Homo sapiens: one gene and its partner. Each later gene encodes a partner of the first gene's protein in a complex. Each region holds a gene or a part of one and is shown in the gene's direction. Other genes may lie near its edges.

Region 1 (16,110 bases):
ACAATTTTTTTTTTTTTTTTTTGAGACAGAGTCTTGCTCTGTCGCCCAGGCTGGAGTGCAGTGGCACAATTTCGGCTCACTGCACTAATTTTTTGTATTTTTAGTAGAGACAGTAGAGTATTTTTAGTGTTAGCCAGGATGGTCTCGATCTCCTGACCTCATGATCCGCCTGCCTCGGCCTCCCAGAGTGCTGGGATTACAGGCATGAGCCACCGCGCCTGGCCGAGACAATTTTTAAAAAGACATTTCTCAAGAGAGTTATAAGCCAAAATTTCCCTAGCCCCCTCCAACTCATTCTGTCCTTCTCCCAGTGCATGTCAGGACAGGGAAGAAGGCTTTAAATCAGATTTTAAGAAAGAGGATACATTGGTTTACAACCTTTGCCTATCGTCCAGAGAGTTTCTGATCTTTTCTTTTTTTTTGAGACGGAGTCTTGCTCTGTCGCCCAGGCTGGAGTGTAGTGGCACGATCTTGGCTCACTGCAAGCTCTGCCTCCCAGGTTCACGCCATTCTCCTGCCCCAGCCTCCCGAGCAGTTGGGACTACAGGCACCTGCCACCACGCCTGGCAAATTTTTTGTATTTTTAGTAAAGACGGGGTTTCATTGTGTTAGCCAGGATGGTTTCGATCTCCTGACCTTGTGATCCGCCCACCTCGGCCTCCCAGAGTGCTGGGATTACAGGTGTGAGCCACTACACCCGGCCCTGATCTTTTCTTTGACGGTGGCAGTATCTCATTTTTTGATAATACACATGGGTAATGGCAAGCTCTTGGGACCCCATGCCAAGCATCAAGATCCCATTTACCTGGTGATAGGAAAGACAGACATTCCTCACCCTTTCTACCCACACCCTTGTTCACAGGGATGACTGTAACTAAGGTCTGCAGGTATTTATGCTTAGGAGAAGAAATCGTAGTTCAATTCACCAGGAATATGAGAAACAAAAGAAAGCCACTATGTGCTATGTAAATGTCTGGCCATCCAAAGCCACCTTATGCAGAGGAACACTGGAAGGGCCTTGATAAATTTCTCATAATTATTATCGGGCCTCTTTGTGATTACTCACATTTTTCTCAATATAGGGGAAAGATCAGCATTTTACCAAATCCACAACCATCAAACAAACAAGAGCTTTAATATTGCTAAAGAAAATCACACAGCTGAGCAGATTGATGTAGATTTGAATTCATGACCACCTATCTTAACTGGACCCTCAGCTCTGCCTAGCTAGTATTCATTCTAGCTACTAGTTTTGATTATTTGTATTGACTCTTTTATATTTTCTCCACCTTCCTCAAATATCTCACCTTCCCCCACCCCTCAGTGGACAAAAAAAAAAAAAAAATTCTTCATGAAGAAAACTGAAGCCTTCAAATAGAAATTTCCTCACCTTCAAGGCACCAAAGCCACAACTTACCTACCCCCGCTCCTGCCTGCTCCTCTCCCCATCCCTTCTGCTACAACGAAGGAAGCAGTAATGGCTCCATCAATGGCTTCTCACACTTGGTGTCAGAGGCCTTCACACGAGGGTTTGCACTCCCCTACAAGGACATGAAGACTTTCTAGAAGGTAGGTGGACACAGATAGTTTTAAAGTAATCAGTTTCCAGAGCCGCCTTCTCCATATGTTCCCCTCCTTATATTGGTGGGCCTAAGAAGCCACAGGCCTGACAGCTGTCCTTCCCAACTTCCACTTTCCCAGTTGCCTCCCCTCCCTCATTCTGAATCCTACTCTGGCTCCTTGCTCTGCGCTGTAAAAAACAAATAAAAGGGCCACTTGAGAATGCTCTGCTTGAGGAAGTCCTTGAAAGAGCAAAGCCTGGAGAGCTTCTTTGAGAAAGTTCACAGGGGCAGCCCTGTGGCTCAGTTCTGTGCCTTCTTCATTTAAGAATTCAAATTCATTGACATGTTATATTGTAAAATATATAAATATATATTAAAAAGGAAAAAATAATAAAAATTTTTAAAAATAATTCAACTTCAGGTGAGACACAGTGGCTCATGCCTATAATCCCAGTGTTTTGAAAGGCTGAAGTGGGAGGATGGCTTGAGGCCAGGAGTTTGAGACCAGCTTGGGCAACATAGCAAGATCCCGTATCTACAAAAAATAATTTTAAAAATTAGCTGGGCATGGGCCGGGCGCGGTGGCTCACGCCTGTAATCCCAGCACTCTGGGAGGCCGAGGCAGGTAGATCATCTGAGGTCAGGAGTTCAACACCAGCCTGGCCAACATGGCAAAACCCTGTCTCTACTAAAAATACAAAAATTAGCCGGGCGTGGTGGAGCATGCCTGTAGTCCCAGCTACTCAGGAGGCTGAGGAAGGACAATCGCTTGAACCCTGGAGGCAGAGGTTGCAGTGAGCCAAGATCATGCCATTGCACTCCAGCCTGGGTGACAGAGCGAGACTACATCTCAAAATAAATAAATAAATAATAAAATAAAAATAAAAATTAGCTGGGCATGGTGATATGCGCCTGTAGACCCAGCTACTCCAGAGGCTGAAGCAAGAGGATCACTTGAACTCTGGAGTTCGAGGTTACAGTGAGCCATAATCACATTATGGCACTCCAGCCTGGCAACAGAGCGAGACCTTAACTCTAAAAAAAGAAATAAAGAAGAATTTAAACTGAAAGTGAGATGGTTGACACAGGATACATATTAACCACATTGATTTGAATGGAAAAATAAAATCAGACTTTTTCTGTTAGAAGGTCAGAATTGGCTCACAGGTTTGACAGAGAGGATAGTCTTTGCAAGTAGGATGTATGGTGGACATTTTCCCTAAAATGGAATAACTTTAATCTGCAGCTCCACAGTTTGAACAAAAACAGACTGAAGGCTGGGCGTGGTGGCTCATGCCTGTAATCCCAACACTTTGGGAGGCCTAGGCGGGCAGATCACGAGGTCAGGAGATCGAGACCATCCTGGCTAACATGGTGAAACCTCATCTCTACTAAAAATACAAAAAAATAGCTGGGCGTGGTGGCGGGCACCTGTAGTCCCAGCTACTCAGGAGGCTGAGGCAGGCGAATGGCGTGAACCCGGGAGGCGGAGCTTGCAGTGAGCCGAGATTGCGCCACTGCACTCCATCCTGGGCAACAGAGTCTCAAAAAAAAAAAAAAAAATTTTTGACTGAAAGTACAGATACAACTTCCCTTTCCAGCCAAGATGGAGGAGCAGGGGCCAAGTTTATCCTCCTGCCTGAAACAACCAACCAAACAGTAAATACATGAAATAATGAGTTTCAAGACACTGGACATGAGGTAACAAAAGACAGTGATCTCTCAGAGGCAAGAAACAAACAAGGAGAACCCCTCGGTTGCCCAGCTTACCGCTTGAGAGGATGTATTTCACGGAGGGAGAACCCAGGCAAAGCAAGTGACTCTGAGGTGAGGGGATAGCTGGGAGTGTGGAGCAGCCAAGCTGGCTAGAGTGCTCAGGACAGGGTACTGGAGAGGAGAAAGGTGGATATATAGAGAATTCTGGGGATCTGCAAAGGGCCCCCCTTGAGTGTTCCACAGAGCATGATTCATCATATAAGTGTAAGGAAACCACTTGAGACAAAGGAAAGGACCACCCAAAACAATGGGCCGGAACAGTAGCCAGAAGTCACACACAGCCTGGACCACGCCTGTCCCCATCAGCCAGATTGGAAAACCTCAAATTTATGGAGCATTGGTCAGAGGTCTCAGAAGGGCCTTGCCTCGTAGTGGGGATTCATTAGCCCTAGTTTAAACATTGCTGGAACCTACCTAACAAATCTCAAAAGCAAGACCTGAATTCAGGAATCAAGCTGTTTCTAAGTAACTGAAGTGTATCCCAGAACAAAACCCAAGAACATTAACAGAAATCCAAAATTAACGAGCACCCAAAAATGTAAAATTCACAATGGCTGGTTTTCCAATAAAAAATTACCAGTCATGCAAACTATAACCCATCATAAGGAGAAAAATCAGTTGAAACCACTACAGCTGACACCTATGTGAGAATTAGACAAGGACACTAAAAGAATTATTATAACTGTATTCCATATGTACTAAGTAGAGACTAGGAAGATATTTTTAAATACCCACTTTGAATTTTAGAGACGAAAACTAAAATGTCTGAGATGATGGGGTGGGTGGGGTAGGCAGAAAGAGGAGGATGGGAAGAAGTACCAAGGGGAAGGAGGAATGATTTGGGGATGACGGCTGTGTTTATTATCTTAATTGTGGTGATGGTTTCACAGGTATATGTAATTTCTAAACTTATCAAATTGTACACTTAAAATATGTGGTCTATGGAATGTTAATTATATCTCAATAAAGCTGTTAAAATTGTACTGAAACAAAACCATTGGGGGAAACTGGGTAAAGAGTCCAAAGGACCTCCCTATACTATCATTGTAACTTCCTGTCAATTATAACGATTCCAAAATAAAGAATTTAAAAGTGTTTTTAAAATTAAAAAAAAAAAGTCTGAGATGGAAAATCACTGAATGGAATTAACAACAGTTTAGACGTTGCAGAAAAAACAGTAGTGCACTTGAAGACATAACAATAGAAATTATCCAAAAAACACCAAGAGAAAGAATTTTAGAAATGAATACAAAGGGCTAGGCGCAGTGGCTCATGCCTGTAATCCCAACACTTTGGGAGGCTGAGGCGGGCGGATCACCTGAGGTCAGGAGTTCGAGACCACCCTGGCCAACATGGTGAAACCCTGTCTCTGCTAAAAATACAAAAATTAGCCTGGTGTGGTGGTGCATGCCTGTAATCCCAGCTACTCAGGAGGCTGAGGCAGGAGAATCGCTTGAGTACGGGAGACAGAGGTTGCAATGAGCCGAGATGGCACCACTGCACTCCAGCCTGGGCAAAAGAATGAGACTCCATCTCAAAAAAAAAAAAAAAAAGAAAAAAGAAAAGAATACAAAGTATACACAATGTGACCAGGTGGGTGGCTCATGCCTGTAATCTCAGCACTTTGGGAGGCCAAGGTGGGAGAATCAGTTGAGGCCAGGAGCTCCCGACCAGCCTGGGCAACATAGCAAGACTTCATCTCCACAAAAAAATTTTAAAATTAGCCAGGCATGGTGGCACGTGCCTATAGCCCCAACTACTTGGGACGCTGAGGCAGGAAGATCGCTTGAGCCCAAGAGTTGAAGGCTGCAGTGAGCTATGATCGCACAACTGCACTCCAGCCTGGGAAACCAAGCGAGACCGTATCTCAAAAAAAAAGAAAAAAAGTATACACAATATACAACAGGCAGAAAGTATGTCCTTTACAATGATTTAAAGTTATGAAAAAAATTTAAGCCAGGTGAGATAGTGCATGCCTACAGTCTTGGCTACTTAGGAGGCTGAAGTGAGAGGATGGCTTGAGTCCAGAAGTTCAAGGCTACAGTACGCTATCTATGATCACACCTGTGAATAGCCACTGCACTCTAGCCTGGGTGACATAGCAAGATCCTGCCTCTAAAAAAATAAAAATAAAAGTAAACTTAAATTTTAGGTATCAAGTGAAAACAGGCAAGAGGGTTTTTTTATTTTTTTATTTTGTGGGGGCGCATGAATAAAGGAATTTAAAGATGCTACTCTGGATCCCATCTTCCTTCTTCCTTGCTCCTGAGTATCCTTTCCCTCTGTTCTGCTGGCTCGTTCCTATCAGCACACATATCCACAGCTTTAAGGAAAGCTTCCTTTGACCCCCATAACCCATCTCCAGTTACTGCCCAGTTGCTCTGCTCTTTTTGCAACAGACGCCTGGAGTTCTGCCATCTCTGCTTCCTCATCTCCCACGTACTCTTCAACCCATGCCCATGTGACTGCCACTCCAAACGCTCCACCAGCATTCCTCTTGCTAGACTCATCATGACTTCTCTGTTGCTAAATTCATTGGATGCTTTTCGTTCTCATTCTGCTTGCCCTTTCAACTATTTTCAATAGTTCACCACTCCCTCCTTCAGCAGCTTGCCACTTCCTCCTTGGATTTTGGAACACCACCCTTTTTTGTTTTCTTCTCACCTCTCTGGCACTTCTTTATCAGGTTTCTTGGCAAGCACCTTATTACCATTGCAACTTTTAAATGCAGGTGTCCCTGTCCTTGGCCCAAAGGCTCTCTGCACACTTCTTCTCTTGAGCTCATCAAATATCAAGGTTTTATTTTATTTTTTATTTTATTTTGTTTGAGACAGAGTCTCGCTCTGTCACCCAGGCTGGAGTACAGTGGCACCATCTCGGCTCACTGCAACCTCCACCTCTGAGGTTCAAGTCATTCTCCTGCCTTAGCCTCCCAAGTAGCTGGGATTACAGGCATGCACCACCATGCCTGGCTAGTTTTTTGTATTTTTAGTAGAGATGGAGTTTCACCATGTTGGCCAGGCTGGTTTCGAATTTCTGGCCTTAAGTGATCCCACCTCAGCCTCCCAAAGTGCTGGGATTACAGGTGTGAGCCACTGTGCCTGGCCATTTTTTTGTATTTTTAGCAGAGACGGGGTTTCATCATGTTGGCCAGGCTGGTCTCGAACTCCTAAATATCAAGATTTTAAGTACATTCATATGTCAACAACTCCCAAGGGTGTATCTCCAATCCAGGCTCTCTTCTGGGCTCAGGGCCTGTATTTCCAATTGCCTACTTGACCACTCCACCGGAATGCCTCAAAGATATGTCGAGGTTTTCCACGTTCAAAACCCAACTCTCAATCTCCCCCAGCAGAAAATAGTGACTCTATCCACACAATTATTCAAGCCCAATTATTCGAAAAGAAAAAGGACTGGGCGTGGTGGCTCACGCCTGTAATCCCAGTACTTTGGGAGGCCGAAGCGAGCAGATCACCTGAGGTCAGGAGTTTGAGACCAGTCTGGCCAACATGGTGAAACCCCGTCTCTACTAAAAATATAAAAAATTAGCCAAGCGTGGTGGTGGCACTGTAGACCCAGCTACTCGGGAGACTGAGGCAGGAGAATCGCTTTAACTCAGGAGGCGGAGGTTGCAGTGAGCCGAGATCGTGCCACTGCACTCCAGCCTGGGCAACAGAGTGAGACTCCGTCTCCAAAAAAAAAAAGAAAGAAAAGAATATATATATAAAGTATATATAAATTGAGCCAGGTACAGTGGCTCATGCCTGTAATTCCAACACTTTGGGAGGCTGAAGTGGGAGGATCATTTGAGGCCAGGGGTTTAAGACCAGCCTGGGCATCATAGCAGGACCCCATCTCTACAAAAATTAGCTGGGTCTGGTGGCAGGCACCTTTAGTCTTAGCTACTCAGGAGGCCGAGGTGGGAGGATCTCCTGAGCCCAGGAGTTCAAGGTTGCAGTGAACTATGATTGCACTCCAGCCTGGGCAACAGAGTGAGACCCTGTCTCAAAAAATAATAATAAAATAAAATAAAATATAAATTGGATGACACTCTCCTGCTATAATACTTCAGTGGCTTTCCATTACTTTTAGATAAAATCTAATCTCTATACCTTGGCCTGTAAAATCTGTCTTTTGACTGCTTATTTCTCCAGCTTTATCTGTACCACTCTCTTCCTATCTTTCTGTGCCTATAGAAGAACCCATTTCTGCCTTGGGACTTTGCATTTTCCCCTTTCCCCAATGAAATTAACTCCCTCTCCTTCCTTAATCAAACATCATCTCAGAGAGGTCTTCCCTGAGCCCCCAATATAATCTAAGTTTCCCTGCTTTTCTATCTTATACGATTTTGTACTTTTTCTTCATAGTGTGTGTGTTTTGGTTTGATTTTTGAGATCACGCTCTGTCACCCAGGGTGAAGTGCAGTGGCGCGATCTCCGCTCACTGCAACCTCTGCCCCGCCCAGGGTCACATAATTCCCCCACCTCAGCCTCCAGGGTAGCTGGGACTACAGGAGCATGCCACGACACCTGGCTAATTTCTGTATTTTTTGTAGAGACGGGGTTGCACCATGTCGCCCAGGGTGGTCTCAAACTCCTGGACTCAAGCAATTCACCCGCCTCCACCTCCCAAAGTGCTATAATTACAGCTGTGAGCCACTGTGCCCAGCCTTCTTCACAATTTCACCACAATCCGTAAATATATATTTATTTATGTGATTATTTGTTCACTGTCTGTTTTCTAAGTTGTAAACTCCAGGAGGGCAGAGCCAAGGTCAATCTTGATATTTGCCCTCCCTCACTCCCTTCCACCCACTGAGAACACTGTTGGGTAATCAGCAGGTACTCAATAAATGCCAGATGAAATGAATGAGCTAGTGCATTTAGTAATGGAAGCTACCCTGTTTATTGGGAGTAGCTTTGAATCACTACTGAAAATCTGGATAAGTGCTATTAAAATTAGGACCTCAGGTAGGTGCCTCAGGTATCTCAGCCCATAGGTCCTTTTCTTCAAGCCTCACCTGCCACTCTCCACCTGTAACGTGTAGTTTTCATCCAAATAACCTGTGCTCCTGGCAATATCCCTAACAATCCCAAACTAAATAAAGAGGATTGTGACATGGACCCTAAATGTCGCCACGTTTGCGTCTCCATCCCGGAATATGACGCTGGTAGCTCATTAGCTCCATTCAAGCCTACAAATTGCATCACCCTCCTCCTCTGCCCAGACCTGGGGGCTCCAACACCTTTCGCTAGGTCTGGCTCTGGCCTCTGAGCGAACCTTCCGTACAGTATGGCGGCTCCCGAAGCCCCGCCCCTGGACAGAGTTTTCCGTACAACATGGCTGTCTACAGAGTGCGATTCCCACCCACTTCCGCCTAGCTACCGGAAGTTTCTATTTGAAACCCAGGCGGCCGACTTAGCCGGTGGCACGACAGTTGCTGCAGGGAATCTTTTAAACGAGAGCGAGAAGGACTGCGGGCAGGACCGGCGGGCTCCTGGGTTCGGCTCTCCCGGGGCGAGGGACTGGGCTGGATGGGAGGAAGGACGGAATGAGCTGGGAAAGGAGGATTTTCTCTTTTCCAACCCCGAGCCGGGGCCTGTCGGGTCGCGCTATCCCCGGGCCCTCCACTCTCTCGGGCCCAGTGGCCCAGCGCTGGGTAACATTCATCCTGTACCTTCCAGGGTTCAGCCGTGCCGCCTCGTTACGATGACCAGTGTGGTTAAGACAGTGTATAGCCTGCAGCCCCCCTCTGCGCTGAGCGGCGGCCAGCCGGCAGGTGAGGGTCCAAGCCACGCCCGGGGCACTGCGGCCTGGCCGGGGATGGTCTCGGGAGTGTGGAGATCGAATGGGTGGCGCGGGCACGGGGAAGGGCGTCCCGTCGGCCCTGAAAACCTGTGAGCCCCCTATAACCAGGCTATGTAGGTTTATGATGGGAGTTAAGGGAAGGACCATGTGGTAGGATTTTAGACGTGCTCTGCACTTTTCTGCCCGCATGTGTACTGTATTCATCAGTTAGATTCAAGTTGTTGGTTATTGTACAATGTTATTCCCATTAAGCTAGGAATCCCCTTCTAATCGGTTATCGTCTTATTTCCAGACTTGGGCTATCTTGAGGGATTGGGTTTGTTTTCAGGGAGGAAAGAGGAGAATCATTTGAGAAGTGGGATACTTAGGGTTCTTTGTTCACCTTTATATCTGCACCGTGTTTCTCATTACCACATTCTCAATACACGTTTGTTGAGTGAAGTGGGAGAGAGGGGTTAGACCTAGGCACAGTATTTGAGAAACTTGGGCGAAGAGAGAGACATGATTAAAAATAGTTTTTAATTGCTTTGCCATCTGCTTTGTGTTGCTTTGCTTGTGGTTGAAAGTCATCTCATGGGGTCTGCAGTCGGGGAACTGCCTAATCTAGAGATTATAGTACAGAGTAAGCTTCAGACATCAGAAAACTGTTGTGGGAGATTATGGAGTAGCTATTTATGATCCCTTCCCAGATGATTCCACTCAGCTGGTACATAAACCTTGGCAAGATGGAGCGCTGAAGTGGCCAGGCACGGTGGCTCACGCCTGTAATCCCAGCACTTTGGGAGGGCGAGGTGGGCAGATCACGAGGTCAGGAGATGGAGACCATCCTGGCTAACACGGTGAAGCACCGTCTCTACTAAAAAATACAAAAACTTAGCCGGGCGTGGTGGCGGGCGCCTGTAGTCCCAGCTACTTGGGAGGCTGAGGCAGGAGAATGGCGTGAACCCGGGAGGCGGAGCTTGCAGTGAGCCGATATTGCGCCACTGCACTCCAGCCTGGGCGACAGAGCGAGACTCCGTCTCAAAAAAAAAAAGATTGAGCTCTGAAGTAAATAGGCTTTTCTCCAAAGGCTTAATGGGTTGTTTGTTGTCTTGTGTTGCCGCAGAACACCTGAATGGTAATCCTGGCACCAGCGGGGACTAGGAGTTGCTGGAAGAACTGGAGCCAGGTCTCTCAGCTGCTGTGTCTTTCCCTTAGATGCGGTGCCCCTGAGTCAGTGGGCAGTGACTAGCTCTCTCAGCCAAGTTGGAAGTGTTCATCTCTTTGATTTCTATCTCTGTCCCAGCTTTATGATCATATGTAACTGGAACAGTTTCAAATTTTTAGGCTGCCTCCCAGGATTTTTGTTTTGATTTTGAGCGTGGGCTGGATAAGTAATATATGCACATGTGAAAAAAAAAAAGGTGGAAAACCATATACAATGATAAACAAGTTTCCTTCCCTTCCTTGACACCAGCCATCCAGTTCCTCTCCCAGTGTCTCCCATTTTTAAGAGACAGCTTTGTTAAATCCTACTGAATTTTTCCTACAGTGCAATCCTAGATTTTAGCAAATACAAATTATTGGAACCAATTCTAGTCAATGAAGAGTGTTAATTTTGATCAATTGACTGTTAACTCCATTTTACATGGAGTAGATTTGTTATTGTTTAAAACTTACTAATACTTGAGAGAGGAGAAGATGATATTCCTCCAAGATTACCTTTTTCTTCAGACAGACACCTCAGAAAGAACCCTTTTAATACTTCATTTGTACTGCATTTCTTCAATTTGATTTGATTGTAATGGCTCTTAAGTTAGGTCAAACTTAAAGGGGCCATTTTACAGTGAACAAAGTGAGAGTAAGTCCAGAAAAGCCTGCATGTGAGGGTGGGGGTGCTTAACTCCAGATAAGTTACTTGAATTTGCTGTAGAACACAAATGATAGATTGTGTGGTTGCGGGGCTGGCACAAGGATAGAGGAAAATGCTCTCCTTTGGGGAAGAAGAGTGTTATGGCAGGGCCATTTCTCTGGTTATCTGGCAAGAAGATCAGATTAGAATGCCTAATAGGGAAACTCTAAACTTAACAAAGGGTAAACAAAAGGGCTAGTGGTAGAGGCAGGCAGCATGGAAGAGGAAGGGACCAGACAGGTGGTTTAGAGATGGTCTGTGAAACAACCCATGGAACTGTGAAGTGTTTCATTTATTCAACAAGCAGTTATTGAACCCCTGTTCATATGCCAGATACTTTCCTAGGTGATGGGGACACAAAGATGCCTTAGAATGGTTAGGAAGACATTCTAGTAAAAACAACGAAGTAACGGTTTAAAAAAACTCAGAGCAGCTCAGTCATGCCTTAGGAGAGTGTGCAGAGTGCTTGGAGGAGCTTAATGAGATGGTACAAGGATTCAGGCATGTTTTACCTGCTAACTTCCACCCTGCTCTCTGCTGGTGTCCATCTCCATGTTCACTTTTACAGCCTACACCTTTCAGTTCAATGAAACTTTTGGCTACCCTCAAACATGCTGTACTGTCACGTTTAAATAATTTTGGTTTTTATTGCCAATTAGCCTGGAAGTTTTATTCTTTTGAATTAATCTTCACATGTTGAAATTTGCCAGAATGAAAATAAAGATTTGGCCAGGCATCGTGGCTCACGCCAGAGTGGCCAAGGCAGGAGGATTGCTTGAGCCCAGGAGTTCGAGACCAGGCTGGGCAACATAGTGAGACCCTGTCTCTATTTTTAAAATTTTAAAACATATTTGAGGTGCCTATAGTCCAGCTACTCGGGAGGCTGAGGCAGGAGAATCGTTTGAACCCAAGAGGTGGAGGTTGCAGTGAGCCAAGATCACACCACTGTACTCCAGCCTGGGCCACAGAGCAAGACTCTGTCTCAAAAAAATAAATAATACTTTTTAAAATAAAGTAAAATAAAGATTTATGACAACTTCGAATGGGGCTCTGTTTGTTACAGGGTTGCAACTGTCGGGTCATGATGCCAGAAGCTTTACCTCTCATTTTCCTTTGCAGACACACAAACTCGGGCCACTTCTAAGAGTCTCTTACCTGTTAGGTCCAAAGAAGTCGATGTTTCCAAACAGCTTCATTCAGGAGGTCCAGAGAATGATGTTACAAAAATCACCAAACTGAGACGAGAGAATGGGTGAGAACGGATCATTAGTATCCAGTTAGAACATCTTCCTAGAAATTGCTCAATACAAAGAATTAGAAAACAGAGTTTTGGACAACACAAGTCTCCTGAACAACTGGCCTTCAATCAGTGGCCCAGAGCAGTGCAGCATTGCTGAGCTCTGTGCCAGAACCCTCTGTGTTGATCTTTCTGAAGAGACACAGCCAGAGTTATAAGAGGTGTTCTTTCCTCTTTCATCGCTTGCTCTGAGCATACAAGTGGCAGCACTGTAGTCATACAGCAACCCTGAGGGGTAGTCATGCAGGGTGGGGACTAGTTGTTATCCTAGGTTGCTGCTCTGACCACACAGTCCAGCCCTAGTGTGTGTGTATGTCCCCAGCCAGCAGTCAGTTCCAGGTGAGTGAGGTTGACATGAGATAGCCACGCCATCTTGAGAGGAACAGCTCTGTCAGGTTGTTAGGGTGGTCGGAGGCATGCCCCTTTGCTACTAAAAAGCCTTTTCAATAATCTGTGCCGAAGCAGTAATGCATAGTCTCTCAGAGCTCTTAAGCTTGTGCCATTTGCCTTTTATGTCTGGTTCTTTCCTCAGAAACTCAAGCTCTTTGTTCTGCCTGTTCACAGCACACTTAACAGTACTGTAAGTCTCTGATTCATTTCTTTGTTTCTGCCCTCCTAGGCAAATGAAAGCTACTGACACTGCCACCAGAAGGAATGTCAGAAAAGGGTGAGCATCAGGGTAAATCAACTTGGCCACTATTCTAGGGTAGTGGATCTCAATCCTTGGTTCTGCATCAGAATCATTTGTGGGACTTGTTTACTGTGTTAGGGTCTGGGTTCCACCTCAGGAACCTGAGTGGAATTTTCAGGGGTGAGGCACAGCTAGGTGTAAGAACCATTGTCAGTGCAAGAATCACTGGTGCTACTATCTTGTGTCTCAAGCAAGAGCTTTTTGGACTCCACGCCAGGACCACTGCTGATTGGAAATCACACTTAGCTATGGCCCATCAACAGGAGGGTAAAGCCTTCAGGAGAGGAAGGGCTGGGTGTATGTAGTTAGTGATCTCGAGATGAAGATTCTGGTGGTGGTGGTGGTGAAAACCTGGAGAAGGATTCATGTCTCATCTTTGAGGCTAGTTTGGAAGTTTTGCACTATCAGAAATAGAAATAATAAGCTGAAAAGTCTGTACAAATAGGTTTTAGTTCCAGATCTATTATTTGGGCATATCTTAAAAGTTTTGAAGACAGCAGGGCACACCAGCTCACACCTGTAATCGCAACACTTTGGGAGGCCAAGGTGGGTGGATCACCTGAGGTCAGGAGTTCGAGTCTAGCCTGGGAAACATGATGGGACCCCATCTCTACTAAAAATACAAAAATTAGCCAGGCATGGTGGCGCATGTCTGTAATCCCAGCTACTCAGGAGGCTGAGGCAGGAGGATCACTTCATCCCGGGAGGCAGAGATTGCAGTGAGCCAAGATCACGTCATTGCATTCCAGCCTGGGTGACAGAGCAAGACTCTGACTTACAAAAATAAAAAAGTTTTGAAGACAAAATACTAGCAAAAAAGACTGAGAACTTTAAGAAAAAACTCTAATATTGGTTGCTGAGACCAGCTTGGTCGGGGAGACCCTAACCCAGCGGCGCTAGAGGAATTAAAGACACACACACAGAAATATAGAGGTGTGAAGTGGGAAATCAGGGGTCTCACAGCCTTCAGAGCTGAGAGCCCCGAACAGAGATTTGCCCACGTATTTATTAACAGCAAACCAGTCATTAGCATTGTTTCTATAGATAGTAAATTAACTAAAAGTATCCCTTATGGGAAATGGATGGGCTGAATTAAAGGAATAGGTTGGGCTAGTTAACTGCAGCAGGAACACGCTCTTAAGACACAGATTGCTCATGCTATTGTTTGTGGCTTAAGAATGCCTTTAAGGGCCGGCGCAGTGGCTCACGCCTGTAATCCCAGGATTTTGGGAGGCCGAGGCGGGTGGATCTCAAGGTCAGGAGACCATCCTGGTTAACTATGGTGTTTCACCGTCTCTACTAAAAATACAAAAAATTAGCCAGGCATGGTGGCGGGTGCCTGTAGTCCCAGCTACTCGGGAGGCTGGGGCAGGAGAATGGTGTGAACCCAGGAGGTGGAGCTTGCAGTGAGCCGAGACCACGCCACTGCACTCCAGCCTGGGCGACGGAGCGAGACTCCATCTCAAAAAAAAAAAAAAATGCCTTTAAGTGGTTTTCCGCCCTTGGCAGGCCAGGTGTTCCTAGCCCTCATTCCCGTAAACCCACAACCTTCCAGCATGGGCATTAGGGCCTTTATGAACATGTTACAGTGCTGCAGAGATTTTGTTTATGGCCAGTTTTGGGGCCAGTTTATGGCCAGATTTGGGGGGCCTGCTCCCAACAATTGGTGATATTAGAGTTTATTAGATGATAAACTAACATTAGATAATAGCCCAGCTACTGGGCTAAGAAATGCACACGTGTTTTCTCTCTTATTACTCATAATAATAATACTATGAGATGTGGGTATTGTCCTGATTTCAAAAATGAGGAAACAAGGCCTCAGGGAGGTTATGCAACTCACTGAAGGTCATATACCACTGTGTAATAGCCAGGATAGAATGGGACGTGTTTGTGTAACTCTGTAGGCCGTATTTTTCTTTCTTTTTTTTTTAGACGGAGTTTTGCTCTTGTTGCCACCCAGGCTGGAGTGCAATGGCGCAATCTCAGCTCACCACAACCTCCGCCTCCTGGGTTCAAGCGATTATCCTGCCTCAGCCTCCCAAATACCTGGGATTACAGGCATGCGCCACCACGCCTGACTAATCTTTTGTAATTTTAGTAGAGACAGGGTTTCTCTTATCTTGGTCAGGCTGGTCTTGATTTCCCGACCTCAGGTGATCTGCCTGCCTCAGCCTCCCAAAGTGCTGGGATTACAGGCATGAGCTACCGCACCTGGTGTGGGCCATACTGTTAACCCTTTTATCTTTTCATGTAAGTACAACTATTATTACAGCTACAAACCACTGAGTAAGCAAAAATCAGAGGAAGAGCTCAAGGACAAGAACCAGCTGTTAGAAGCCGTCAACAAGCAGTTGCACCAGAAGTTGACTGAAACTCAGGTAAGAGACCCACCAGAGCTCTGTTACCAGCTGCCACTGGGCGATCCACATGGAATCCTGATGGGTGGCCCCTTGGATGAGCAAGCTTGTTAATGCACAGATGCCCAAGGGCAGAAAAAAAAAGCCAGGCTTTTGCTATGGCTGTCCAAGAGCAAGGGCAAGAAAGGGCAACCACCCCTAGGGAGTTGGACAATTCCTGATCTGTCTGTGCTGTGCTCCAATAGGGAGAGCTGAAGGACCTGACCCAGAAGGTAGAGCTGCTGGAGAAGTTTCGGGACAACTGTTTGGCAATTTTGGAGAGCAAGGGCCTTGATCCAGGTAAGAGACAGCACACAGCTAGCCTCCTTTGAAGGAATTGGTGCATGTGCCCCTTCCGGGGTTGATCTTGGCAGCATGGCATCAGCTGGCCCAGTATGTGCAGGGGTTACTTTCATAAAGCCCTAAAGATTTTGGAAAGCTTCTGTTTGTTTTCATGTGATGTTGATTTTTGCCTGGCCAATAGGATTTCAGATGATTATAGAGAGAGGGTTATCTCTTTCTTACCTGAACACTTTATGCCATTCATTTAGTGCCAACAGGTATGACCTTGCAAATAGATGAGAAACACTTTGTTCCTTTCAAGGGAGAACATTTTCTGTCTCTTCCTATTTGGGAAAGTTACTAGTGTGCTTGAAAGGAACATTTTGTTTGAACATGCTCTTCCT
Region 2 (15,122 bases), on another chromosome or scaffold:
CAGATTTCCGTGTCAATCATGTGGACCCAGAGGAGGAAATTGTAGAGCATGGAGCTATGGAGGAAAGAGAAATGAGGTTTCCCACACATCCTAAGGAGTCTGAAACAGAAGATCAAGCACTTGTCTCAAGTGTGGAAGATATTCTGTCCACATGCCTGACACCAAATCTAGTAGAAATGGAATCCCAAGAAGCTCCAGGCCCAGCAGTAGAAGATGTTGGTAGGATTCTTGGCTCTGATACAGAGTCTTGGATGTCCCCACTGGCCTGGCTGGAAAAAGGTGTAAATACCTCCGTCATGCTGGAAAATCTCCGCCAAAGCTTATCCCTTCCCTCGATGCTTCGGGATGCTGCAATTGGCACTACCCCTTTCTCTACTTGCTCGGTGGGGACTTGGTTTACTCCTTCAGCACCACAGGAAAAGAGTACAAACACATCCCAGACAGGCCTGGTTGGCACCAAGCACAGTACTTCTGAGACAGAGCAGCTCCTGTGTGGGTAAGCGCCCCTATGTCCTTGCACCTCGTGAGTTCCATTACCCTGGACCTTCCCCTCCCATCCCTTCCCCTCCTTTTCTTTTCGTCATGTTCTTCTCTTTCTGCTGCAGCCGGCCTCCAGATCTGACTGCCTTGTCTCGACATGACTTGGAAGATAACCTGCTGAGCTCTCTTGTCATTCTGGAGGTTCTCTCCCGCCAGCTTCGGGACTGGAAGAGCCAGCTGGCTGTCCCTCACCCAGAAACCCAGGACAGTAGCACACAGACTGACACATCTCACAGTGGGGTAAGAAGGTTCCTCTCAAAGCTTGAGGGATCCCAGTGGGGATCCTTGGAATTTAAGCTGAGAAGCTGCCAGAGGGCAAAGGGGACTCCTATCACAGGCTTATACTTAGAACATTTGCAAAAGCTGAGAATCTGGGCAGTCACAATGGCTGATGCCTGTAATCCCACTGCTTTGGGAGGCCAAGGTGGGAGGACTGCTTGAGGCCAGGCATTTGAAACCAGCTTGGGCAACACAGCGAGATCCCATCCCTACAAAAGATTTTTAAAAAATCAGCTGGATATGGTTTTGCATGCCTCACTACTCAGGAGGCTGAGGCAGGAGGATCATTTGAGCCCAGGAGGCTAAGGCTGCAGTGAGCTATGATCATGGGCAAGACAGTGAAACCCTGTCTCTTAAAACAAAAAAGCTGAGGATCTGGAAAATCCCCTTAAAGCTGTGGGTAGTCACTCTACCCCTGGGGTACATCAGAACTTTCCAAAGGAGTGCAAGCAAGGAAACTTTTAAAGGAATTGGTTTTTAGATCATCATCTTCCACAAGTATTCTTTTTCTTCGTTTTTTGCATTGGTAGACTATATTTAATATTTTAAGAAAAATTATGAATAAGCCTAAAACATTTTTTAAAATAATTTTTAATTTTTGTGGTTACAGAGTTAGGTAAATATATTCATGGAGTCCATGAGATGTTTTGATATAGGCATGTGATGGTCAATAATCACATCATGGAAAATGGAAAATGGAGTATCTGTATCTGTCCCCTCAAGCATTTATCCTTTGTGTTACAAGCAATCCAATTATACTTTTAGTTTTTTTTTTTTTTTTTTTTTTTTTGAGACGGAGTCTCACTCTGTCACCCAGGCTGGAGTGCAATGGCCTGGTCTCGGCTCACTGCAACCTCTGCCTCCCAGGTTCAAGCGATTCTCCTGCCTCAGCCTCCTGAGTAGCTGGGACTACAAGCGCATGCCACCCCACCCGGCTAATTTTTGTATTTTTAGTAGAGACAGGGTTTCACTATGTTGGCCAGGCTGGTCTCGAACTCCTGCCCTCATGATCCACCTGCCTCAGCCTCCCAAAGTGCTGGGATTACAGGCGTGAGCCACTGCGCCTGGCCCCTGTTGTTTATGTGAAGAAGATTTCTCAGTGTTTACATCTGTCAGAATGGAAAGGAGTCAGCTGGCATAGTGGCTCACCCCTGTAATCTCAGTACTTTGGGAGGGTGAGGTGGGAGGATCGCTTGAGCTCAGGAGTTCAAGACCAGCCTGAGAAGTATGGTGAAACCTCATCTCTACAAAAAAATACAAAAATTAGCTGGGTGTGGTGGTGTGTGCCTGTAGTCCCAGCTACTTGGAAGGCTGAGGTGGAGGATCACTTGAGGCTAGGAGTTCAAGGCTGCAGTGAACTGAGATCTTGACACTGCACTCCAGCCTGGGCAACAGAGCCAGACCCTGCCTCAAAAAACAGAGTCACGAATTGTTGCTGAACTATTTCTTATTGCTGGAATTATAGTAATCCACAGATATACGAACTAATAAGGGGAAGGAATCTCCATCGATTTCATTAATAGGTGATTCCCAATTAAATTTTGCCGAGCATGTTTATTTTATTAGAAATTATATTACAGTGACTAATATACAACTGATTAAAAGATTTCTCTATCCTAAAGAAAGCTTTTTCACTTTAAAGCCTTCCGGTCAAAGGAATTTAAAGGAAATTTTAATTTAAATTTAGATGAACTTTCATTGTTGTTGCAGAGATGATGGTTAATAACAGATTTTATTTTTATTTTTTGAGATAGTTTCTTGGTCTGTCACCCAGGCTAGAGTACCATGTTGCGATCAGGGCTCACTGAAGCCTCAGCTTCCTTGGCTCAGGTGATCCTCCCACCTCAGCCTCCTGGGTAGCTAGGACTGTAGGTGTATGCCACCACACCTACCTAATTTTTTTGTATTTTTAGTAGAGATGGGGTTTTGCTATGTTGGCCAGGCTGTTCTCAAACCCCTGGGCTCAAGTGATCTGCTAGCCTTTGCCTCCCAAAGCACTGGGATTACAGGTGTGAGCCACTGTGCCCAGCTAATAACATACTTTAAAGCATAAAAATATATTACATTAGGCTGAAATTCTGAGAAAAATAAAAAATATATGTTCAAAGAGAAAAAGGGATGACATAATAAAATTTCTGACTGCTAAGAAGAGCTTTTTCTTGTATTTTTAAAAGATAGCAACTAGGTATCTCATCATTTTGGTGTATGTAGTATTTATGCCACTGGATATATTTAAGAGTAATCTAATAATTTTATTTTAGGCTGGGCATGGTGGCTCATACCTGTAATCCCAACACTTTGGGAGGCCGAGGCGGGAGGATCACCTGAGGTCAGGAGTTCAAGACCAGCCTGGCCAACATGGCGAAACCCCGTCTTTACTAAAAATACAAAAATTAGCTGGGTGTGGTGGAGGGCACCTGTAATTCCAGCTACTTGGGAGGCTGAGGCATGAGAATCGCTTGAACCCGGGAGGCAGAGGTTGCAGTGAGCCAAGATCGCGCCACTGCACTCCAGCCTGGAGGATAGAGTAAGACTCTGTCTCAAAAAAAAAAAAAATTATTTTAAATTGTCAATATTGGTAATATGCTGGACATTACAGCCTTTGCAACAATTTAAACTTAAGGGTACTTAGTTTTTGCAGGAAATATTAGAGGAAAGTAGCTAAAAGACCACTGTTGGCCCAATGTGGTGGCTCACGCTTATAATCCCAGCACTTTGGGAGGCTGAGGCCGGCAGATCACTTGAGGCCAGGAGTTTGAGACCAGCCTGGCTAACATAGTGAAACCCCATCTCTATTAAAAATACAAAAGTTAGCTGGGTATGGTAGTGCACTCCTGTAATCCCAGCTACTTGGGTGGCTGAGGCATGAGAATTGCTTGAACCTAGGAGGTAGAGGTTGCAGTGAGCCGAGATCACCCAGTGTACTCTAGCCTGGGCAACAGAGTGAGGCTGTCTCAAACAACAACAACAACAATGTTCTAGAGGATTGTATTACAACACAGGCCTAAGAAGGAAGGGAATGGTGGCAGGTGAAGGAATTGATAGCACCTCACCATTGTGGCTGTTGAGATAATAGGTGGCTGCTGCTAAGAAGAGATGGTCCCCAAATGTGCAGAGACCTCCTTTGAGTTGAAAATATCCTCAAAGTAATGACCTTACCATTTGCCAAAAATCCTGGAAACCATAAGCTCCATGTTCCTCCAGCTGTTCAATTTCCCTCCTGTTTTCTTATCTTTGTGTCCTTTCCTCTTGTTCTTGACCTTGTTTCCCATCCCTGAATCTGCCATGCATCCTCTTCCCCTGAAGGTTGCCAGGTCCCTTTGTAGGCCACTGAAGCAGAACCAAAGAGGGGAAATGACATACCTTTAGCCATTCTCCATCAGCATGCCATGTCCTTGCTGCCTGGCTGCCTCCTTCACATTAATCTCATCACCTGCCTGACTGTCCAGCTGAGCACGATGTGAGCCCTATCCAAGCTCATGTGCTACTCTGTGCCTTATTTCACGATGCAGCAGTGAATGATAACTGCTTTGCTGGGGAAGGGAGCCATGAACTCCAAGAAATCAGCAGTGCTGCTCCAGTAGTAACTTTTCCCCCAGATGATGGCTGCCTTGCCTCAGTAATGAAGACTCCCACTTTTCTCTTAGAACTTGTCTTCTGGGGTTCTACTGCCTTTGAGATCATACCTACTTACTCTATGCATACTATGAGTTTTATCTATCTGACCCAGGATAATGAGCAGACAATTAAGAAAGTAAAAATGATGAATAAATACCTAAGAAGGTTAGCATTATTGGCAATAAAAAATGCAAATTGAACAGTGAGATGCCATTTTCTTGTGACTCAATAGCAAAGAATAAAATAGGTAATGCTGGTAAGCATACTCTATTTATCTGCAGGATATAAATTGGTTCATCCTTTTTTTTTTTTTTTTTTTTTTTGAGACGAGGTCTCACTCTGTTACCCACACTGGAGTGCAGTGGCACGAACATGGCTCACTGCAGCCTCTACCTCCTGGGCTCAAGGGATCCTCCCACCTCAATCCAGCTGAGTAGCTGGGAATATAGGCATGTGCCACCATGCCTGGCTAATGAAAAAAAATTTTTTTTTTTTGAGACGGAGTTTTACTCTTGTTGCCCAGGCTGGGGTGCAGTGGCGTAATCTCGGCTCACTGCAACCTTGCCTCCCGGTTTCAAGTGATTCTCCTGCCTCAGCCTCCGGAGTAGCTGGGATTACAGGCACGTGCCACCACGCCTGGCTAATTTTGTAGTTTTAGTAGACATGGGGTTTCTCCATGTTGGTCAGGCTGGTCTCGAACTCCCGACCTCAGGTGATCCGCCCGCCTTGACCTCCCAAAGTGCTGGGATTACAGGTGTGCGCCACCGCGCCCAGCCTTTTTTTTTTTTTTTTAGAGATGGGGTTTCACTGTGTTGCCCAGGCTGGTCTTGAACTCCCGGACCCAAGTGATCCTCCTGCCTCAGCCTCTGAAGGTGCTGGGATTACAGGCATGAGTCACTGTGCCTGGCTAAACAAAGAAATTTTTTACCTACCTGTGGATTTTTCTTTCTGACTTGGCTTCATTGAATTGAGTACTTTGCTTCTGCTTTTAATAGGAAAGGTGGCTGGGTGTGGCAGGAGCACTTTGGAAGTCCGAGGCAGGAGGACTGTTTGAGGCCAGGAGTTTGAGACCAGCCAGGGCAACATAGCAAGACCTCATCTCTACAGAAAATAAAAAATAAATAAAATAGGAAAGGCTCCTATAACTCACTGGGTGGGAGGAAGAATGAGGTGCTGGTGGTACATGTTGCCTACTCAAAAGGAACAACTTGGCTGGTCATGGTGGCTCACCCCTGTAATCCCAGCACTTTGGGAGGCCGAGTCGGTGGATCACTTGAGGCCAGGAGTTCAAGACCAGCCTGGCCAACATGGTGAAACCCCGACTCTACTAAAAATATACAAATTAGCTGGGTGTGGTAGTGCATGCCTGTAATCCCAGCTACTTGGGAGGCTGAGGCATGAGAATTGCTTGAACCTGGGAGGTGGAGGTTGCAGTGAGCTGAGATTGTGCCACTGCACTCCAGTCTGGATGATAGAGCAAGACTCTGTCTCAAAAACAAACAAACAAACAAAACAAGGAACAACTCTGTTTTTCTGGCTAGATAACTAATAAACTTCAGCATCTTAAGGAGAGCCATGAGATGGGACAGGCCCTACAGCAGGCCAGAAATGTCATGGTAAGTGATGATTGACCTTACACCACCACTGGGTCTCCTGTGAAGATGAAGAATGGAGAATCCTGGGTGGTTAGTAGATGGTGATACTAAGTCGTGGTGGTGAAGGGAGGTTTCCAAACATTTGTAAAGTACATCTCCTTATGCGGAGCTTGGAATTGGGGTTAGCGGTTTTCCTCCCCAGTGCCCCTGTTTCCTGCTTAGTGACTTTATTTGATCTCACCTACCCATTTTTTTCTCTACAGCAATCATGGGTGCTTATCTCTAAAGAGCTGATATCCTTGCTTCACCTATCCCTGTTGCATTTAGAAGAAGATAAGACTACTGTGAGTCAGGAGGTAAGCAGCCTGAAGATGGAGGTGGAGGCCTGTGGTGGGACTAAAAGCCATAAAGAGGAACCAGACACATTAACTGATTCTTACCATATAGTCTCGGCGTGCAGAAACATTGGTCTGTTGCTGTTTTGATTTGCTGAAGAAATTGAGGGCAAAGCTCCAGAGCCTCAAAGCAGAAAGGGAGGAGGCAAGGCACAGAGAGGAAATGGCTCTCAGAGGCAAGGATGCGGTAAGGTGACAGGCATTTGTTCTTGGATGTGGGAGGTTTCCACCTCAAGGTTCCTGCAGGAACACAAATGCACTTTAGACACAGATGGGTGGCCTAAGAACTGCCTGCCCTGGGCAGTAAAGAACTGATCTATTGAGGTGTCATGGTTACATCTTTTTGTGCTGGCTCCCCTGTTGCCCACTGTGGCCTTGCAACCACTTCCCTCAATAGGCAGAGATAGTGTTGGAGGCTTTCTGTGCACACGCCAGCCAGCGCATCAGCCAGCTGGAACAGGACCTAGCATCCATGCGGGAATTCAGAGGCCTTCTGAAGGATGCCCAGACCCAACTGGTAATTTAAGGGCATTTTCTTTCCTGGGGTCTGTGCTGACAGACTGGGAGGGTAGTTGCATACTCCCACTTTGCTGTATCCAAAGGGAAGGGGTTCCCGCCTAGGCAATCTTTCTTTTGTAGGTAGGGCTTCATGCCAAGCAAGAAGAGCTGGTTCAGCAGACAGTGAGTCTTACTTCTACCTTGCAACAAGACTGGAGGTCCATGCAACTGGATGTGAGTATTTGGGACCATCATAACTAATTCCTTACTCACATCAAGTCCTGTTGTGAGCTTTGCCTCAAGTGTGCTCTACTGACCTGCTTGCTTCCCCTGGTAGTATACAACATGGACAGCTTTGCTGAGTCGGTCCCGACAACTCACAGAGAAACTCACAGTCAAGAGCCAGCAAGCCCTGCAGGAACGTGATGTGGCAATTGAGGAAAAGCAGGAGGTACAAACCAAGAGTGGGGACTGCTTAGGCTTGGTTTCCTTCCTAATGTGTGATACCATTAGCCTCTTACCCTGGATCTGTTTTCTTTTCACCCTGTGGGTTTGGAGGCCAGCCAGTAAGGTCTCTTAGCTGTAAGATGGCCTTAAGCGCAGTTTTTTCCTTTGCCCTTCAGCATCTTTACTTCAGCAACTTTTCTCCTGTCTCTACTTTTTCCTGAGGATCAACCTTATTTTCTGCAATGTTGATGCCCAGGAGCAAGGTAGTTTTCTGTCTTGTCCAGAAAGAGAAGCTGGACCAAGTCCTGGGATTATTGATTCAGGAGGAACTATAGGAGGAAAACCATCTGTTCTTCCTAGGTTTCTAGGGTGCTGGAACAAGTCTCTGCCCAGTTAGAGGAGTGCAAAGGCCAAACAGAACAACTGGAGTTGGAAAACAGTCGTCTAGCAACAGGTGTTTGTGTGTGTGTGTGTGTATGCATGCATGTAAGCATTTGAGCCCTGTTAAGGCTTGGAGTGTGGCACTAGAGCAAGGAAGTACTCAGGAGCACTTGCTTTGGAGCAGAAGTTTGGGGAGTTTCTAGCCTGCTGACCGCATGGTGTCATTAGGATACTTTTGTTCTAGATCTCCGGGCTCAGTTGCAGATTCTGGCCAACATGGACAGCCAGCTAAAAGAGCTACAGAGTCAGCATACCCATTGTGCCCAGGACCTGGCTATGAAGGATGAGTTACTCTGCCAGCTTACCCAGAGCAATGAGGAGCAGGCTGCTCAGTGAGTTCCTAACGGGGTACTGTGGCAGTAGGCATCCAGGATTTAGGACCAAATGGGATCTAATATGTTGTCTCTGGCAGATGGCAAAAGGAAGAGATGGCACTAAAACACATGCAGGCAGAACTGCAGCAGCAACAAGCTGTCCTGGCCAAAGAGGTGCGGGACCTGAAAGAGACCTTGGAGGTAAGGAATATGGCTTGGGCCAAGGGAGCTGGTAAGCCTCAGGAGTGTGATTCTTGCCTGATAGTGTTGAGGTAAGGTTTGAGACTGTGAACTAGAAAAAGCCTCTGTACCCAGGGCACTAAAATTCTCCCTCCCTGTCTTGCTCCTTCTCTTGTCTTCCCAGTTTGCAGACCAGGAGAATCAGGTTGCTCACCTGGAGCTGGGTCAGGTTGAGTGTCAATTGAAAACCACACTGGAAGTGCTCCGGGAGCGCAGCTTGCAGTGTGAGAACCTCAAGGACACTGTAGAGAACCTAACGTAAGTTCTCTAACTTTCTGTACTTCCCCCTAAGTGCTTATTTTTTTCTCAGGAACACTTCTAGAAGCCAAAATCTCCAAGAAGAGAACTGTGAGTGTTGAGCCTCTTGTTTCTCTCCTTTAATGCAGCTCTGTGGGGATTTGGGATAGGCGTTCAGAGAAGGTAATTTGGTCTTTGGTCATCTTCCCTGTTCCTTATTTCAGGGCTAAACTGGCCAGCACCATAGCAGATAACCAGGAGCAAGATCTGGAGAAAACACGGCAGTACTCTCAAAAGCTAGGGCTGCTGACTGAGCAACTACAGAGCCTGACTCTCTTTCTACAGACAAAACTAAAGGAGAAGGTAGGATCCTGGGGTTCCTTCTCTTCTCTTCCAATTGTATCTTTATTTTACAGATAGTCTTCCTAAAACATTACTCTTTTTCTAACTGTGACCTTTTATGATTTCAGTTACCTACAGGACCTCATTAGCCTGTTGCTCAAACCTTTCTTCCCCTGTCTCCTATCTCCCTATTATGAACACTTTGCCCCAGCTAGACTGCCTGTATGCTACACACATGTCCCCATTTTTATCCCCAGAACCCAGACTCTGGCTGTTCCCACATTCATTCTATTCTTTCTTCAAACTGGAAATGCCTTTTCTATTAAAATCCTCCCTTCCGACCTGGGCAACGTGGTGAAAACCATCTCTACAAAAAAATACAGAAATTAGCCCAGGTGTAGTGTTGTGAACCTGTAGTCCCAGCTATCTGGGAGGCTGAGGTGAGAGGATCACCTGAGCCTGGGAAGTTGAGGCTGCAGTGAGCCATGATCATACCTGGCTAATTTTTTTGTATCACTGCACTCCAAACTGGGTGAGAGTGAAACCCTTTCCCCCACAAAAAAAGAAATCTTCCCTGGTTTACCTTCTTTGAACTGTTCCCAAATCAAATCATGTGGACCCGGTGATCTTTTCTTCTGCCATATTTCTCATGAACTTACTCTTCTTTTGTATTTGTATTAATTTTCCTTGGATACCTGGTCTCTTCAACCAGACTATGTTTCAAGAAAGCAGAAATATAGCCTTCTTTGGCCTCCCTGCAGTGTGCACTAAACAATAAATGGTTGACATCATTCAGAATACAAAGGTAATTAGCTTATTCAGCAGATAAGGCACAACAAATATCCTAAAATCTGGCAATTGCTTATGACCTGATCCTCTTCCCCAACTGGGTACCGAGCACAGGAAATGCCATCAAATCTACAGTTTAGCATGGAAGACAAACAGATGTAAACTTGTCATCTTGACTTATGATCATGGTAGAGGTCTGCATGGACCACTGTGAGAGATAGAGAGGGGAGCACCACTTCAGCCTTCGAGAATTAGGATGCCTTCTCAAAGCAGCTGACCTTGGGTACAGTCTTGAGGTTTAGACGTTTGTGGGGCAGGGGAGGGTATTTAGGAAGTCCCACTAGGCAGAGGGAACGGTGTATGAAAGTTTCATCTGACTACATATGAGAGTCGTACGTAGAAAGTCATGCACATAGTACATGATGTGTTCTTTTTTATAGTGTCTACCTTATAAAACCTGGGTTAGGTGCTGGGACTAGAGGATGAACAAGGCAAGATGCTGCTCATATGGAATGCAGCAAGTCTGAGGAATGGGAAGCAGCTCTTCATGGCTGCAGCGTGAGAGCTCTGTGGGGCAAGGCAGGAGACAACACTGGAGAAGTAGGCAGGAGGCCAGATTTTGAAGGCTTGAAATAATGGCAGTTTTATAGGCAGTAGAAAGGAGAGGATGGAGTGAATGGATTCAATAGATATTTAGGAAGCAGAGGCAGTAGAACCAATTTGATGTAAGAGTGACCAATTTGATGTGAGAGTAAGTTAGAAGAGTGAATGATGATCCTTAGATTGCTAGGAAAGAGGGCCCAGCGGGTCAGCTGTGTTAGTGTGTGGAGACTAGGGCTAGTGACACCTCCGGGTCAGCTCTGTGCCCAGGAAGCACTTCAACCTGTGTGGCAGGAGGGATAGCAATAGGAAGCACTTCAATTCCCCACAACTCAGACACCCAGACGGGAGGGCAGAGGACCAAGGCTGAAAGGAGTAGAGAGCCTGAGAGAGAGATGAGACTGAGGGGAGCTAGTGGTGACTCAGGCTAACCAGTCAGCGGGAGAGACCTAGACCGGGGGGCAGAGAAGGCGGGAGAACTGGAGAGAGGACCTAGCCTAGGAGGAGAGGGAGCAGGCTGAGAAGGAAATGCTCTGGGTAGGAGAGACAGACTCCAAGGAAAAATCCAACAAGTAGAGGAGGATTTGGGATTGGAAAAGCTGAGGTCCAGCTGGGAGAGCTGAAGAGGGATAGAACAGAAGAGGTTGAGCCATGGGGTTTCAAGTACGCGGAAAGGAGCAAAGATGTTAGGAAAGGGTCGAAAGGGCACATCCCGGAGTCCCAGGTAGCAGGACGAGGATGGCAGGGGAAGAGCCAAGGAAATGAAGCGGAGATGTTGAGTGGCTCCCGCCTTGCCTGGCCTTACCTGTGCGCAGCCAGTTAGCAGCCGCAGCCACAAGCACAGCTACTTCAGGACTGAGGCCAGCAAGCTTTTCCTATAAATGGCCATATAATAAGTATTTTTGGCTTTTTGGGCCATATGGTCTCTGTCTCAACTACTCAATTCTGCCTTTGTAGTTCAAGAGCAGCCATAGATGATACAGCCATTAATGGGTCTGGCTGTGTTCCAATAAAACTTTATTTACAAAAATAGTTGGCAGGCTAGATTTGACCTGTAGGCCACAATTTGCTAGCCTTCCCTCTCCCTGCTCTAGAATAGTAAATACAGGAGTAGGAACAGACTTTTGATAGGGTGTTCCCTATCAGGGCACAGGGAAAATGGTGAACTCAGCTTCATACATACTAAGTTGACAGATTGACTGTGGAACCTTCTGGTAGATTCTTCACAGGCAGTTAGCCTTTGAGTCTGCAGACTGGGAAAAAGACTGGGAAAAAGTTGAGAGAGGGATGGAAGAGTCATTCATGTGGAAGGGAAGTTTGAAGTAGATGTTTTTGTGATGCTCCCAAGGCAAGGCCACCCTGGGAATGAATTAGAGTAAATTTAGGGCCAAGGACTTAACCCAGAGGATCCAGCAGTTAAGGAAGGACCTGTGAATAGAGAAGAAATAACCAGAAAGGTGTGGGGCCTGCCTTTAAAGGAGAGAGACTCATGTCCTGGAAGCTAAGAAAAGGAAGTTTCTAAAAGAACAATGTGGTCATCAATATCAAATAGGTCAGGTAAAACAAGAGCTGAAATATATGCATTGCATTTGAAAGTAAGGCTGCCATTGGTGAACCAAATGACAAGAATTTAGGTGGAATGACAGGGGAGAAGCCTGAGTGTAGTGGGCTGGGGAGTCAATAGATGGTGAGAGTTATAAACAAGAAGTATAGGCTCTTTTTTTCTTTCTTTTTTCTTTCTTTCCTTTCTTTCTAGAAAAGGCAGTAGCTAAAAGGGGATTTAAGGTAAGAAGAAGGGTTTTGTTTTGTTTTGTTTAGGTTTGTTTTTAAAATACTGCTGTTTTTGTTGGAGAGGCTTAAGAATATAAACATGTTCAGAGAAAGGCACTAATGGAGAAGTTGAAGATAGAGAATTGAGATAATAGGTGGAACAGCATTTTGGAGGAGATGGCTGGGAGTTACCTGGAAGCCCAGGAGTTCACTAGACCTGAACAGCAGCTATTTTTTCTTCTTTGCCCTTAGACTGAACAAGAGACCCTTCTGCTGAGTACAGCCTGTCCTCCCACCCAGGAACACCCTCTGCCTAATGACAGGACCTTCCTGGGAAGCATCTTGACAGCAGTGGCAGATGAAGGTTAAAGGCCCTGGGATTTGGGGGTGGGAAAGTTGTGACGCTGCTCCTGATATCTTCTGCTGTTGAAGATGTCCACCAGCGGGCTTGTCTATCTTACCCTGGCTTCCATTATGGTAGACCCCTGCCTGGATCATCAGAGGGGCCCTCTCCCATTATTGGTTTTTCTCTTAGAGCCAGAATCAACTCCTGTGCCCTTGCTTGGAAGTGACAAGAGTGCTTTCACCCGAGTAGCATCAATGGTTTCCCTTCAGCCCGCAGGTTAGGAGGGGCTCCAGGGATCCTGCCTCATTTCTAGAAAATCTGGTGGTGATGAGTAAAGACGAAAGCAGTGAGAAGTGCTTTGCTCTAAAAACCTCAATTCTACTTGGGCTCATTTTATTTCTGCCTTCTGGGATCTGTAATGTTCCAGACATTCAAATCCTGTGGGTGGGGAACACGGATAAGAGTTGTGGAAATGATGGCTATACACTCCTTCCTTCCAGGGCTGGAAGGCTAGACCTCTATCTGGGACTTTCTCTTTCAGAGACCCCAGGCATGGAGGAGAGCCTGGCAGAAATGAGTATTATGACTACTGAGCTTCAGAGTCTTTGTTCCCTGCTACAAGAGTCTAAAGAAGAAGCCATCAGGACTCTGCAGCGAAAAATGTGAGTGGGATGCAGTTTTGGTGACAGAGGGACAGTGAGACATCCTCTTATGCCAAGGGTCCAACTGATCCCTGAGAGGACAGGAATGTTGCTAAATTCTTCCTTCCTTCAGTTGTGAGCTGCAAGCTAGGCTGCAGGCCCAGGAAGAACAGCATCAGGAAGTCCAGAAGGCAAAAGAAGCAGACATAGAGAAGCTGAACCAGGCCTTGTGCTTGCGCTACAAGGTGAAGGAGGGACCTAGAAGTGGGGCGATGAAGAACTGGGGCAGCTCTACTGGCCCACTGGGAGCCATTATCTCTCCAGGAATCTGGGTGGTGGGGATTTTCCAACCACTGCCCTAGTTTTGCCCTTCCTGGGGTCAGACATTTCACATGTCAGCTATGGGCTGACCTGTCTTCCCAGGCTGACTCAGGAGAGAAGTCAGGAACTCTAGCAGAGCTCTCCCAACACTGAAATGTGCCTTGCCTGGCTTGGCCCTGGGGAAAGAATTGGCGTGATATCAATTGGTCCCATGTGGGCTAAGCATGGGTCAGGCACTCTCTCCTACCTCCTGGCAAGGGCTGTGAAGAGACCAGCTCTTCATGTGTCTTCTCACCTCCCTTTCCCTCACAGAATGAAAAGGAGCTCCAGGAAGTGATACAGCAGCAGAATGAGAAGATCCTAGAACAGATAGACAAGAGTGGCGAGCTCATAGTATGTTCACCATCATGCCCAGGCCTTTGCCTTCTGTGTTACTGGTCAGCCAGGATCCCAAGTATGAGAAATGGTTTGCTTTTGTTCACCACATGTTGTCTATCCTTATGTCCTATTGGACACCTCTCCATTCTCATTCCCAGAGCCTTAGAGAGGAGGTGACCCACCTTACCCGCTCACTTCGGCGTGCGGAGACAGAGACCAAAGTGCTCCAGGAGGCCCTGGCAGGCCAGCTGGACTCCAACTGCCAGCCTATGGCCACCAATTGGATCCAGGAGAAAGTGTGGCTCTCTCAGGAGGTGACTCAGAGTTAACAGAGGAGCTGGACAGCAGGTGGGGACCCCAGGCTGTACCCCTGTTGATCTGGACATATTTCTAGGTGGACAAACTGAGAGTGATGTTCCTGGAGATGAAAAATGAGAAGGAAAAACTCATGATCAAGTTCCAGAGCCATGTAAGAATGTCCATGCCATTCCAGGGCCATTTCCTACCATCGTTAACAAATGCCCCGCCATGTTTCCCCTGTCCTACCAAGTTTGCTCTTTTATGCATAGGACTTATAAAATCTGTTTGCTTTCTAGAGAAATATCCTAGAGGAGAACCTTCGGCGCTCTGACAAGGAGTTAGAAAAACTAGATGACATTGTTCAGCATATTTATAAGGTATAGGCAGGAGGGAGGTGATATCACTAATGAACCTGGTACAAGGCCTGGCCCCAGGAGGTACTAATGAGCACAGATCTGGTTCCCAGCCTGTGCTGAGAGCTGGGCCTGAATCACTATTGCAGGCTTCTCTGTGGTGTCTGTTTTCTCCCCTCTAATTCAGCGGCTGCCTCCTGGGGCTGGGAGCCCTGGGCCTTAAGTCTGTGGTCCTGAGCTGCGTTTTCTGCCTCTCTTCCCAGACCCTGCTCTCTATTCCAGAGGTGGTGAGGGGATGCAAAGAACTACAGGGATTGCTGGAATTTCTGAGCTAAGAAACTGAAAGCCAGAATCTGCTTCACCTCTTTTTACCTGCAATACCCCCTTACCCCAATACCAAGACCAACTGGCATAGAGCCAACTGAGATAAATGCTATTTAAATAAAGTGTATTTAATGAATTTCTCCAAGCTTACGGAATCTTACTTTTTGGGTGAGAGGGGGCGGATGATGAAGTCAGGGAAGAAGCAGCTTGGGCCTCCTGCCTGGGCACCCTCCATAGATCCCTCTCCACCTCCTGCTGCATCCAAAGCCAAGGCTGCCTGCCCTTCCTCCCTTCCTCTGCTTTCACCAAAACTCTGGGCACTGGACTGCTTGTTCCCTGGCTCACCGCCTGGAG

What was found.
Region 2: KNSTRN (region 1) and SPAG5 share a complex: the UniProt entries of both Homo sapiens proteins name them as parts of the astrin (SPAG5)-kinastrin (SKAP) complex.

Annotation. Positions count from the first base shown.
Region 1 is NC_000015.10:40,374,206-40,390,315, forward strand, and holds the start of KNSTRN (small kinetochore-associated protein), read left to right. Parts: upstream 1-8,515; 5' UTR 8,516-8,630; coding exon 8,631-8,839; intron 8,840-9,022; coding exon 9,023-9,117; intron 9,118-12,156; coding exon 12,157-12,289; intron 12,290-12,953; coding exon 12,954-13,001; intron 13,002-15,300; coding exon 15,301-15,406; intron 15,407-15,630; coding exon 15,631-15,724; intron 15,725-16,110. UniProt on the Homo sapiens protein: Essential component of the mitotic spindle required for faithful chromosome segregation and progression into anaphase.
Region 2 is NC_000017.11:28,577,356-28,592,477, reverse strand, and holds the end of SPAG5 (sperm-associated antigen 5), read left to right. Parts: coding exon 1-496; intron 497-605; coding exon 606-780; intron 781-5,978; coding exon 5,979-6,053; intron 6,054-6,295; coding exon 6,296-6,388; intron 6,389-6,479; coding exon 6,480-6,614; intron 6,615-6,824; coding exon 6,825-6,944; intron 6,945-7,066; coding exon 7,067-7,159; intron 7,160-7,262; coding exon 7,263-7,376; intron 7,377-7,732; coding exon 7,733-7,826; intron 7,827-7,997; coding exon 7,998-8,145; intron 8,146-8,225; coding exon 8,226-8,328; intron 8,329-8,491; coding exon 8,492-8,625; intron 8,626-8,828; coding exon 8,829-8,967; intron 8,968-12,357; coding exon 12,358-12,469; intron 12,470-12,640; coding exon 12,641-12,727; intron 12,728-12,992; coding exon 12,993-13,113; intron 13,114-13,225; coding exon 13,226-13,337; intron 13,338-13,725; coding exon 13,726-13,806; intron 13,807-13,949; coding exon 13,950-14,105; intron 14,106-14,185; coding exon 14,186-14,260; intron 14,261-14,387; and 5 more. UniProt on the Homo sapiens protein: Essential component of the mitotic spindle required for normal chromosome segregation and progression into anaphase. Required for chromosome alignment, normal timing of sister chromatid segregation, and maintenance of spindle pole architecture.